Regions from separate parts of the Homo sapiens genome. Here region 2 is linked to region 1. Evidence: fine-mapped QTL for protein levels in blood plasma. A gene starts in region 1. The other region holds a variant in brackets. All regions are shown on one strand. Distances are between the middles of the regions.

Region 1 (5,366 bases):
AAAGTAAATGATGTGGACTTTCAGTATAATTTTTTTTTTTTTGAGATAGAGTCTCACTCTGCTGCCCAGGCTGGAGTGCAATGGCGCGATCTCAGCTCACCACAACCTCCACCTCCCGAGTTCAAGCGATTCTCCTGCCTCAGCCTCCCGAGTAGCTGGGATTACAGGCATGTGCCACCATGACCTGCTAATTTTGTATTTTTAGTAGAGATGGGGTTTCGGCATCTTGGCCAGGCTGGTCTTGAACTCCTGACCTCAGGTGATCTGCCCACCTTGGCCTCCCAAAGTGCTGGGATTACAGGGATGAGCCACCAGGCCAGGCCTATTCTCTCTCTCTCTCTCTCTCTCTCTCTCTCTCTCTCTCTCTCTCTCTCTCTCTTTTTTTGAGACAGAGTCTCGCTCTGTCACCCAGGCTGGAGTGCAGTGGCGCAAAATCTACTCACCATAGTCTCCACTTCCCAGGCTCAAGCGATTCTCCTGCCTCAGCCTCCCAAGTAGCTGGGATTACAGGTGTGCACCACTACACCTGGCTAATTTTTGTATTTTTAGTAGAGACGGGGTTTCACCACGTTGGACAGGCTGTTCTCGAACCCCTGATCAAGTGATCTACCCACCTTGGCCTCCCAAAGTGCTGGGATTACAGGCATGAGCCACTGCACCTGGCCAATATTCTAAGTAATGCTTCCAACTGTGACATTTTAGTGCAAGTAACCCACCTCAGTGGTTTAAGGAAAGGCTAAGACACCTCATGTAATGTGTAATGAGGTTAGTGCGATGTGTTGACACTTAGACATTTCTAAACATTAACAAAAGCTTTTGTGAGAGAAATAAAATAGTTATTGAACCACTGCCTGTCCAATAAAAATGTCCCTAACCATTTTCTATAACTATAATGTGCATGAACATAATTACCCTAATAAACACATGAAAGCCACCATAACTGTTAACAGTTGCCATGTAATTTAATAAAGTTATGTCACACACGTGCACTCACACATTCACAATGACCCTCCGGCCCCAGTGTTCTTCAAGCCTTTGCACCAGTGCATGGGAGGAGAGCACGCTCTACAGGTTAGACTTCTGATCAAATCCTGCCTCTGATACTACTCACTGTGGGACCTAGGCAGGTGTCTTAACCTCTCTGAGCCCTGGGATCTGAATTTTTTTTTTTTTTTTTTTTTGAGGCGGAGTCTCGCTCTGTCGCCCAGGCTGGAGTGCAATGGCACGATCTCGGCTCACAGCAAGCTCCGCCTCCCGGGTTCACGCCATTCTCCATTCTCCTGCCTCAGCCTCCCGAGTATCTGGGACTACAGGCGCCTGCCACCACGCCTGGCTAAATTTTTTTTGTATTTTTAGCAGAGACGGGGTTTCACCGTGTTAACCAGGATGGTATCGATTTCCTGACTTCGTGTTCCGCCCGTCTCGGCCTCCCAAAGTGCTGGGATTACAGGCGTGAGCCACTGCTCCTGGTCGGGATCTGCATTTTAAAAATGAGGATAACGGTATCTGTCTCCTAAAGGTTTGGGGAGGCTGCAATGAGAAAACTTAGGGTAGGTGCCTGGCACCAAGCAGGTGCTGCTTGGGTATTTCAGAGCCTCTGGGCTGTGGCAGGGGCCTTGCAGGGTTATCCTGGGTAACTTCCCATCCAAAGCAAAAATTTCTTCCTCAGCAACCCTGTCAAATGGCCTCTGCTTGAATCATTCCAGGACAGGAACCTAGCACCTCACAGGCCGGCAGTTCCATCTCCTGTAGAGTCGAACTGTTGGGAAGCTAAAATTTTGAGTAGAATCCTCTCCCTTAATTCTTAATTTATCCCTCTGGTGCCCTTGTGCCTCCCAGCACCCATCCCCCAAGAAAGGAGACAGCGGCTACAGGGCTAGAGGAGCCCACACCCGGGAGCTGGTCCCTCGGCCACCTGCAAGCGGACGACAGCCTCGGGCCCTCCCCAGCGCTCCATTTCTTCCCCGTCGGATGAGGGGGAAAGCTCCCGCCAGCTGCCCCTCCCCCAGGACTGCTGGAACACGGAATGCGGGGCTGGGGGAAGCGCCTGGGGAACTGCGAAGCCCCAAATTCACACCAAGGAGCCTCAGGCTCGCTCTCCAGTCCCTTCCTCCACCTGCCCTCAGGGTACACAGGGGCAAGGGCCACTGCTCCCGCCGCGTCTGAGCCGCAGGGGATGCAGAGGGACTGCGCTCTCGGGATCTGGACCAGAGGCTGGAGGCCACCTACCCCGCGCGGCCCTGGCTGGCTGACGGCGATGGGCTCGGGTCTCCGGCCGGCCGGGGCGGGGTGTCACCCACCTGCTGCGGCGCCGCGCGGCTCTGGGGGTCCAGCTCCGTGGGCGCTCCTGGCTGCTGCGCCGCCCGCGCCTCGCCTCCCGCCGCCAGCCTCCCCCGGGCCGCTCCACGTGGCCGCTCCACGTCGCCCTCCCGGCTGGAGCCGCCGCCCTGGCCGGGCAGAGTCCGGAGCCAGTGCCAGCCGCCGCCCCGCCCGCCGGACCTGGCCCTTCGCAGCTCCACCAGCGCCCCCGCTGCGCCCGCGGCCGGAGGGGCTGCGCGCGCCCGTGTGAGTGTGCGCGTGTGTGCGTGCGTGAGTGCGCATGTGCGCGTGTGCGAGTCCGCGTGTGCTCGTGAGTGCGCTCGTGTGCTTGTGCGGGTGTGCACATGCGTGTGACATTGTGAGCGTGAGTGTGAGCATGTGTAAGGATGCACGTGTGTGAGCGTGCATGTGTGCGCGGATGTGTGCGTGTGCCTGTATGCACACATGTGAGTACAGAGAGACCAAGAGACAGTGAGGCCAGTGTGCATCAGAAGTATGTTTAACTGTGCTCATGCTTTGGTTGCCACTTTCTCTGCCTGAGGGACCCAGATGTATGTGACAAAATGGAACCTAACTTACTGTTAGCATGTGCGGTTGTGACTGGCATGTGTGGCTCTGTGTATGAGGAATTTGTGACACGGTAGGGGGTATTTTGTGTGACTGTGCATCCGTGTGATAGTGTGGGCTTCAGGGGCCGGGCGTGGTGGCTCACACCTGTAATCCCACCACTTTGGGAGGCCAAGGCGGGTGGATCACGAGGTCAGGAGATGGAGACCATCCTGGTTAACACAGTGAAACCCCGTCTCTACTGAAAATACAAAAACATTAGCCGGGCATGGTGACGGGCGCCTGTAGTGTCAGCTACTCGGGAGGCTGAGGCAGGAGGATGGCATGAACCTGGGTGGTGGAGCTTGCAGTGAGCCGAGATCACGCCACTGCACTCCAGCCTGGGTGACAAAGCAAGACTGAGACTCCGTCTCAATAAATAAATAAATAAATAAAAAATAAATGATAGTGTGGGCTTCAGGGTATGGCCAATGTGTGACTGACTGCCCAGGGGTGTGGCGGTGCAGAGTGTTAGAGGCATATGTATTGGGGTGTCAGGGTGAACTCTTCCTGAGTTGTTTGTGACACTCCATCACAGCGACACTGTCATCACAGCGACAAGCCCACTCTCATCCTGTCCTCCTCCCAGTGATGAACACTGCTTGTCACTGCCTTTTTAGATCACGGATTCTGCTGGTTTCGGCAATACCTCTCCTACCTCTGGTCATTTCAAAAAGGTCTCCATTTTCTTCACCGTCAGAGTTCCTCAGGGCCCTCTCCTCACTTTCCATCTGCTCATGTGCTCATCTGCTCACCTAGCTCCCATCACTGTTATGCATTGACTCGTGTCCTTCACAAAGTTATATGTTGAAGTCTTAACCTCCAATACCTCAGACTGTGACCTTATTTGGAAATAGGGTCATTGCAGATGTAATCCATTAAGATGAGGTCATACTGGAGTAGGGTGGGCCCCTAATCAATATGACTGGTGTTCATATCAAAAGAGGAAATGTGGACACAGACACACACATAGGAAGAACATTGCTATGGCCTGAATATCCCACCAAATTCATGTGCTGAAACTTAGTCCCCATTGTGGTGATATTAAGAGGAGGAAGCCAGGCACAGTGGCTCACACCTGTAATCCCAGCACTTTGGGAGGCCGAAGTGTGAGGATCTCTTGAGGCCAGGAGTTTTCGACCAGTCTGGGCAACATAGTGAGACCGTGTCTCTACAATAAATAAATAAATAAAAATTAGGCATGGTGGTGCACGCCTGTAGTCCCAGCTATTTGGGAGGCTGAGGCAGGCAGATCCCTTGAGTCCAGGAATTTGAGGTTACAGTGAGCTGTGATCCTGCCACTGCACTCCAACCTTGGTGACAGAGCGACATCCTGCCTCTGAAAAAAACCAAAAAGGAGTAGGGCCTTTTGGGACATGATGAAACCATGAGGGCTCTCCCCTCATGAAGGGATTAATGACCTTATGAAAGAGGTTTCTGAGAGAGTTCACCCCTCTTGCTCTCTTGCCTTTCTGTCCCTTCCATCACATGAGGAAACCCAGACGCACCATCTCTGAGGAATGGACCTTCACAGACACCGAACCTGCCAGTGCCTGGATCTTGGACTTCCCAGTCTCCAGAACTGTGAGGAATAAATTTCTGTTGTTTGTAAATTACTCAGTCTGTGGGATTTTGTTATAGCAGCACAAACTCACTAAGATGTTTGTGAAGATGAAGACAGAGATCAGGGTGATGCTTCTACCAGTCAGGGAGTGCCAAAGATTTCCAGCAAAATGCCAGAAGCCAGGGGAGAGGCATGGAATAGATTATTCCTCACGGTTCCCAGAATGAACCCACCCTACTGATATTTCAGTCTTGACTTCTAGTCTCCAGAAGTGTGAGACAATAAATCTCTGTTGTTTAAGACAGTCCCCAACCTTTTTGGCACCAGGGACCAGTTTCAGAGAAGACAATCTTTTTTTTTTTTTCTTTTTTTTTTCTTTTTTTGTATTTTTTTAGTAGGGACGAGGTTTCACCATGTTGGCCAGCCTGGTCTCGAACTCCTGACCTCAGGTGATCCGCCTGCCTTGAACTCTCAAAGCATTGGGCGTTACAGGCGTGAGCCACGTGCCCAGCCTCAGAGAAGACAATCTTTCCACAGATCAGAAGGGTTGGGGGTGAGGGTGATGGTTTTGGGATGAAACTTCCACCTCAGATCAACAGGCATTAGATTCTAATAAGGAGCACGCAACCTAGATCCTTCTTGTGTGCAGTTCACATAGGGTTTGCGCTCCTATGAGAATCTAATTCCACTGCTGATCTCAGGCAGTAATGCTTGCTCATCCTGCTCACCTTCTGCTATGCCACCTGGTTCCTACCAGGTCATGGACCAGTACCAATTTGCAGCCCAGGGGGTTGGGGACCCCTGGTTTAAGACACCCAGTTTGTAGTGCTTTCTTACAGCAAACTGCCAACTAATACACCACCTAAATGCTGATGAT
Region 2 (5,366 bases), 17 kb before region 1:
TACCATTGCGGCTGCATCGCCTTCTCCCCTCCATCCAGCCTGGCGTCCAGGTTGCCCTGTTCAGGGGACAGATGCAAGCTGTGGGGAGGACTCTGCCTGTGTCCTGTGTTCCCCACAGGGAGAGGCTCTGGGGGGATGGCTGGGGGATGCAGAGCCTCAGAGCAAATAAATCTTCCTCAGAGCCAGCTTCTCCTCTCAATGTCTGAACTGCTCTGGCTGGGCATTCCTGAGGCTCTGACTCTTCGATCCTCCCTCTTTGTGTCCATTCCCCAAATTAACCTCTCCGCCCAGGCCCAGAGGAGGGGCTGCCTGGGCTAGAGCAGCGAGAAGTGCCCTGGGCTTGCCACCAGCTCTGCCCTGGCTGGGGAGGACACTCGGTGCCCCACACCCAGTGAACCTGCCAAAGAAACCGTGAGAGCTCTTCGGGGCCCTGCGTTGTGCAGACTCTATTCCCACAGCTCAGAAGCTGGGAGTCCACACCGCTGAGCTGAACTGACAGGCCAGTGGGGGGCAGGGGTGCGCCTCCTCTGCCCTGCCCACCAGCCTGTGATTTGATGGGGTCTTCATTGTCCAGAAATACCTCCTCCCGCTGACTGCCCCAGAGCCTGAAAGTCTCACCCTTGGAGCCCACCTTGGAATTAAGGGCGTGCCTCAGCCACAAATGTGACCCAGGATACAGAGTGTTGCTGTCCTCAGGGAGGTCCGATCTGGAACACATATTGGAATTGGGGCCAACTCCAATATAGGGTGGGTAAGGCCTTATAATGTAAAGAGCATATAATGTAAAGGGCTTTAGAGTGAGACAGACCTGGATTAAAATCTGCCATTTAATTAGCTGCATATCACCTTAGGGTACAGCACTTAACGCAATCTGCCTCAATTTCTTCATCTGTCAAATGGAACCAATTCTGCTTGGCTACAGAATTATTGTGAGGATAAAATCATATATAAAATGCCCAGCATGATGCCTGATGTGTACAAGGCTCTCAAAAAGTTCTAGTGATGATTAATATTACTGGGGATGGGGTCACCTGCCCTGAGCTGCAGGAGAGCATGGGGTGTCTGAACACCAGGTGAGGGGGAACCGGTGAGGGTTTGGGGCCCAGGGATAGACTGAGCTTTCCTCACTGGGTCCTCTGCAGCCGGCCATGGCTAGCACCATGCGCTCTGCTGCCGGAGCACCGTGAGGCCCAGAAACACTGGGCAGGCGGCATCCCTGTCCTTTCGGTCCCCAACCCCGTTCCTCTGAGAGGGTCTGGGCAGGCTGGACGGGTAGAGAGGTGGCCGGGGGGATGAATTCATTCAGTTCT[T/G]TATTGGTAATCTGCCCCTTAACTTAGGGTCTCCCTGAGCTGCACAGAAAGACCTGATACCTACTGGGACCAGGCAGGGGGCACAGAGATGGTCCTTGTCCCAGCGTACATTTCCCCTGCCCACTTCAGGGCTTATGTTCTGGCACTGAGACTTCGTGGGGTACCTGTATCTTCAAGATCTAGATCTCATCATTCTCCACTTGAACAATGTGCACCTCAAAGTCATTTTGGGTGTTCTTAGACTCCAGTGTTTCCCCTGGAAGTTCCTTGGCCTCCTCTCCATTCTCCCTGGCCTCTGCCTGGCCCCCAGCTTCCCCTCTGGGCCCGGGGGCATCTCCTTCAGCCTCTGCCTGGCCCCCAGCTTCCCCTCTGGGCCCGGGGGCATCTCCTTCAGCCTCTGCCTGGCCCCCAGCTTCCCCTCTGGGCCCAGGGGCATCTCCTTTAGCCTCTGCCTGGCCCTCAGCTTCCCCTCTGGGCCCTGGAACATCTCCATCAGCCTCTGCCTGGCCCCCAGGCTCCTGGACAGGATCCAAAGACTCCCTTCTGGCCTCTACCTGGCCCTTTGCTTCTTCTCTGGGACCAGGGGCTTCCTGTGTTTCTTGTCTTAATGGGCTTTTAGCTAATAGGGACTGCCTTCCAACAGCTTGTGGCTCCTGAGGAGATGGAGCAAGGGGCTCTCCGGGCTCCACGTGCCTGAGGGCTACTCCCGGGAAGTTGATGAGCTCAGCAGGGGTCATGAGCCCATCCCCATTCAGGTCCTGGGTCTCGAGCACTTTGTCCACTATCAAGATCACCTGTGGAAGCAGAGTCACTGTGGGGTCTCCAGGGACAGAGATGTTCCCAGGAGTTCTGACCCTCCCTAACACACCCTTGCATCCCTGCCGTGCAAGCTCTGAGCCCTCCTTTTACAGAGGACTCACCAAAAGAGTTATGATGAGAAAGACCAAAGCCCCAAAGTGCTGGGTCTCCTTTATGCGGGGATCTCCATCCAGCAGAGCTTACCGGGTTGGTGGTAGGAGAGTTGGCAGCTCCAGGGGCCAGAGCAGCTGTCAACATGGACAGCAGCTCCAGGCCATCCAGCTGTCCACTCTGGTCATAGTCATGGAGGGCAAAGAGGTAGAGGAGAACTAAAGAGAAGAGAAGCTGGATTAGAAGAGGTGCCGGGGGAGGTGGAGAAGGCAGGAGTCAATGGGGCAGCCGAGGTCAGTCCCAGATCTGGCTGCCCAGAGCCTCCCGTCCCTGGCCCCATCAGCCCAGCCCCTCACCCTGCTCCCGGCTCAGATGCTCCAGTTGCACTTCTGTCCTTCCTAGTCCCTTTAGGTAGCTCTGCAGAAGTCTGTCAGAAAAGTGGAGAATCAGCCCGGGAGAGGTGAGTCTGCAGCCCTGGGCCTGGTCTTCTCCCTGAAAGCACCCCCGGCCCACCCTACTCACCCGAGCTGCTCCTGGCCTGGCTGGAAGGGGTTGGGCAGGAGCTGATGCTGCACTTCAGAGTCTGGCCTGGAGGAGGAAGGGGAGGACCAGCCTTGCAGAGAGCCTCCCTCAGGGCCCAGCCTGCCAACCTTCTGCCTCCAATCTCCTGGCAGTTTTCTCCCCAGACCCAAAGGGAGTTGCCCCCAAAATTCCAAAAACCCTGTAGTGGGGAGGCTCTTCTGGTCTCCTTGGAACCAAATCCTTAACTCCCTCAGACTCTGTTTTTGCAGCTGGCTACCTTAGACTTTAAATGAAAACCCAAATAAAACAACTGGTTAGGTAGAGGCCAGATGAGGCCACACCTAGTAGACACAAGTTAGAGATCCAAGAAAACAGCCCAGTGAGTGGCAGGACAACATGGGTCACAGACCCCTCTCCTTCCATGCTGGGAGCCAAGGGACAGGTCTCTGGCTGAGCCTGGTGGCACTGCCCAGTTTTATATAGACCCAGTTTGCTCCATGACATAAAATTGACCTATACTTTTTCCAGGACAGGGTGTATCTGTTGGTTCTGGGGTTTCAAGCTGCTCAGGATCTCGTTGTCAGTCTTTCAAGCTCCAAATGTGCTCCCACTTCTGGACTGGGTTAACTGTTTGCCCAAGTCAATCCAGACCTGTGATGCCAGAGAGCTGGCAGGAGTTGCAGCGACTTTTGTCACAGCTACCAGCCCCTGTGGCTGTTCCTGTGGCTGTTTCCCCTTCTACCCAGCATACCCATTGCACAGTATTTATAAATAAAACCTTCAGAAAGGTATTCAGATAACATAGAAATGACATGCTAATGATCTCTACTTCTTTGGTGTTGCCACCATAAGGTCTTTTTTTTTCTGAGATAGAGTCTCGCTCTGTCACCCAGGCTGAGTGCAGTGGCTTGATCTCGGCTCACTGCAACTTCCACCTCCCGGGTTCAAGCGATTCTCTTGCCTCAGCCTCCTGAGTAGCTGGGATTACAGGCATGCACCACCATGCCCGGCTAATTGTTTTTTATTTCTGTAGAGATGGGGTTTCACCATGTTGGCCAGGCTGGTCTCGAACTCCTGACCTCAGGTGATCTGTCCGCCTCGGCCTCCCAAAGTGCTGGGATTACAGGTGTGAGCCACCACACCCAGCCCACCTCAAGGTCTTGATAACAAAACTGCAGGCCAGGCACGGTGGCTCATGCCTGTAATCCCAGCACTTTGAGAGGCCGATGTGGGCGGATCACAAGGTCAAGAGTTCGAGACCAGCCTGGCCAACATGGTGAAACCCCACCTCTACTAAAAATACAAAAATTAGCCCAGCATGGTGGCGGGCGCCTGTAGTCCCAGCTACTCGGGAGGCTGAGGCAGAAGAATTGCTTGAACCCGGGAGGCGGAGCTCGCAGTGAGCTGAGATCATGCCACTGCACTCCAGCCTGGGCGACAGAGTAAGACTCTGTCTCAAGAACAAACAAACAAACAAACAATTGCAGCCCCCACTTCTCTGGCGCCACAGCTTCTTCCCTGTTCTTCACGATGCACTGGAGCTGAGTTCTCTGATTCCAAATGGGTCCAGCAAGCATGTACTGAATGCCCACTTTGTGGCACTCTGACAGGCACAAGATGGGAGGCTGATGGCAGGGAGATACAGAGATCGGGGAACCTACACCCCAGTCTCCTGCCTCCCAGAGGGCCCACCACACCCTTGGATTCTCTAGAGACTTTCCCTCCTCCCAGCCCTTGGCCCTGCCCTCATAACCCTGTTACCTTGTGACTCCATCCTTTGGGGCAGCCTGACCCGTGGGGAGCAGCAGCAGGATTAACACTGTCATCGTCAAAGGTAACATCCTTCCTGGAACTGGAACAAGGAAGAGAATCAGGGGTCGGGGGAAAGAGGCGTCTGCCACCGTGTCACAGATGGGCTGGGTTAGACACAAGCGCATTTTCTGCCTGCTTCTACCTGCAGCCCCAAAGACAGGACTCCTGCTCAGGGAGGACTCACAGACAGACAGCAGGGATCCCATGGAACTATGCTCAAAATAAATGTCACTCCAGCTCTTGTATATAAAGCACATAAAGGCAGGCCTGCTGTGGCGGAAGCAGAGCTGGGGGCGCATCCCCACCCCACGCCCCATTCCCTTGCTCCCCACTAGGTGCCAAGGTGCCCAGAGAAGTACAGCGCAAGCATATCTGACCTCCTTCAGCCCATTCATCTTACAGATGGAAAGGAGCGCAGAAAGTTTAAGAAAAAGGCCAGGTAAGAAACGCAGGGAGTCACAAAAAGACCAAGACTTAAACACAGGCAAAAAGAGAAATGGACTGTTTGTGTTTATTAAAAACCCACTGAAGAACAAATCAAAAGAGGCGCAGACTTCTTGAAATAGGTCTAAACTCAAGTACAAACTGCAAACACAATAAATCAGGGTCAGACCAACAGTGGCCCCAGGAATTGCTATTTGCTAAATGCAGTTAGGAAAATTAGACCCACTATAAAGGAAAAAACAAAAACTTCCCCTAAGACTGACATGGCTTAGGCCCATTGGCAAAATCAACCACTTGAGTATATGAAAACAGTCAAGGATAGAATGGACCAATCAAACAGAGCCTAAAGCTTTCTGGTGAGTCCCAGGG

Which allele goes with the higher level. Positions count from the first base shown, and alleles are read on the strand shown. Strength reflects both the effect of a copy and how common the allele is.
In carriers of allele G in region 2, the plasma level of the protein whose gene starts at base 2,583 in region 1 tends to be lower than with T alone (strong association).

What was found. PIP is the posterior inclusion probability: the model's chance that the variant is causal. The UK Biobank Pharma Proteomics Project read protein levels with antibody pairs (Olink). The fine-mapping took linkage between variants from a reference panel, not from the people measured, so its PIPs are less certain.
Region 2: its variant is fine-mapped to the plasma level of the CGREF1 protein (UK Biobank, PIP above 0.99).

The regions. Positions count from the first base shown.
Region 1 is chr2:27,116,546-27,121,911 of GRCh38, forward strand. CGREF1 (cell growth regulator with EF-hand domain 1) reads right to left here and starts at 2,583. Exons shown (of 6, transcript NM_006569.6): 1 at 2,301-2,583. LOC124907744 (a long non-coding RNA gene) reads left to right here. Exons shown (of 2, transcript XR_007086252.1): 2 at 1-940. RefSeq lists enhancers at 1,515-2,015, 2,016-2,516.
Region 2 is chr2:27,099,785-27,105,150 of GRCh38, forward strand. KHK (ketohexokinase) reads left to right here. Exons shown (of 8, transcript NM_006488.3): 8 at 1-978. It overlaps CGREF1 (cell growth regulator with EF-hand domain 1), which reads right to left. Exons shown (of 6, transcript NM_006569.6): 2 at 4,503-4,593; 3 at 2,742-2,807; 4 at 2,576-2,646; 5 at 2,313-2,437; 6 at 810-2,104. The coding sequence starts at 4,582. The coding sequence ends at 1,490. LOC124907744 (a long non-coding RNA gene) reads left to right here and starts at 4,593. Exons shown (of 2, transcript XR_007086252.1): 1 at 4,593-4,992. RefSeq lists enhancers at 1-99, 1,705-2,205 and a silencer at 1,819-1,998. The variant T/G (reference allele first, on the strand shown) is at 1,311.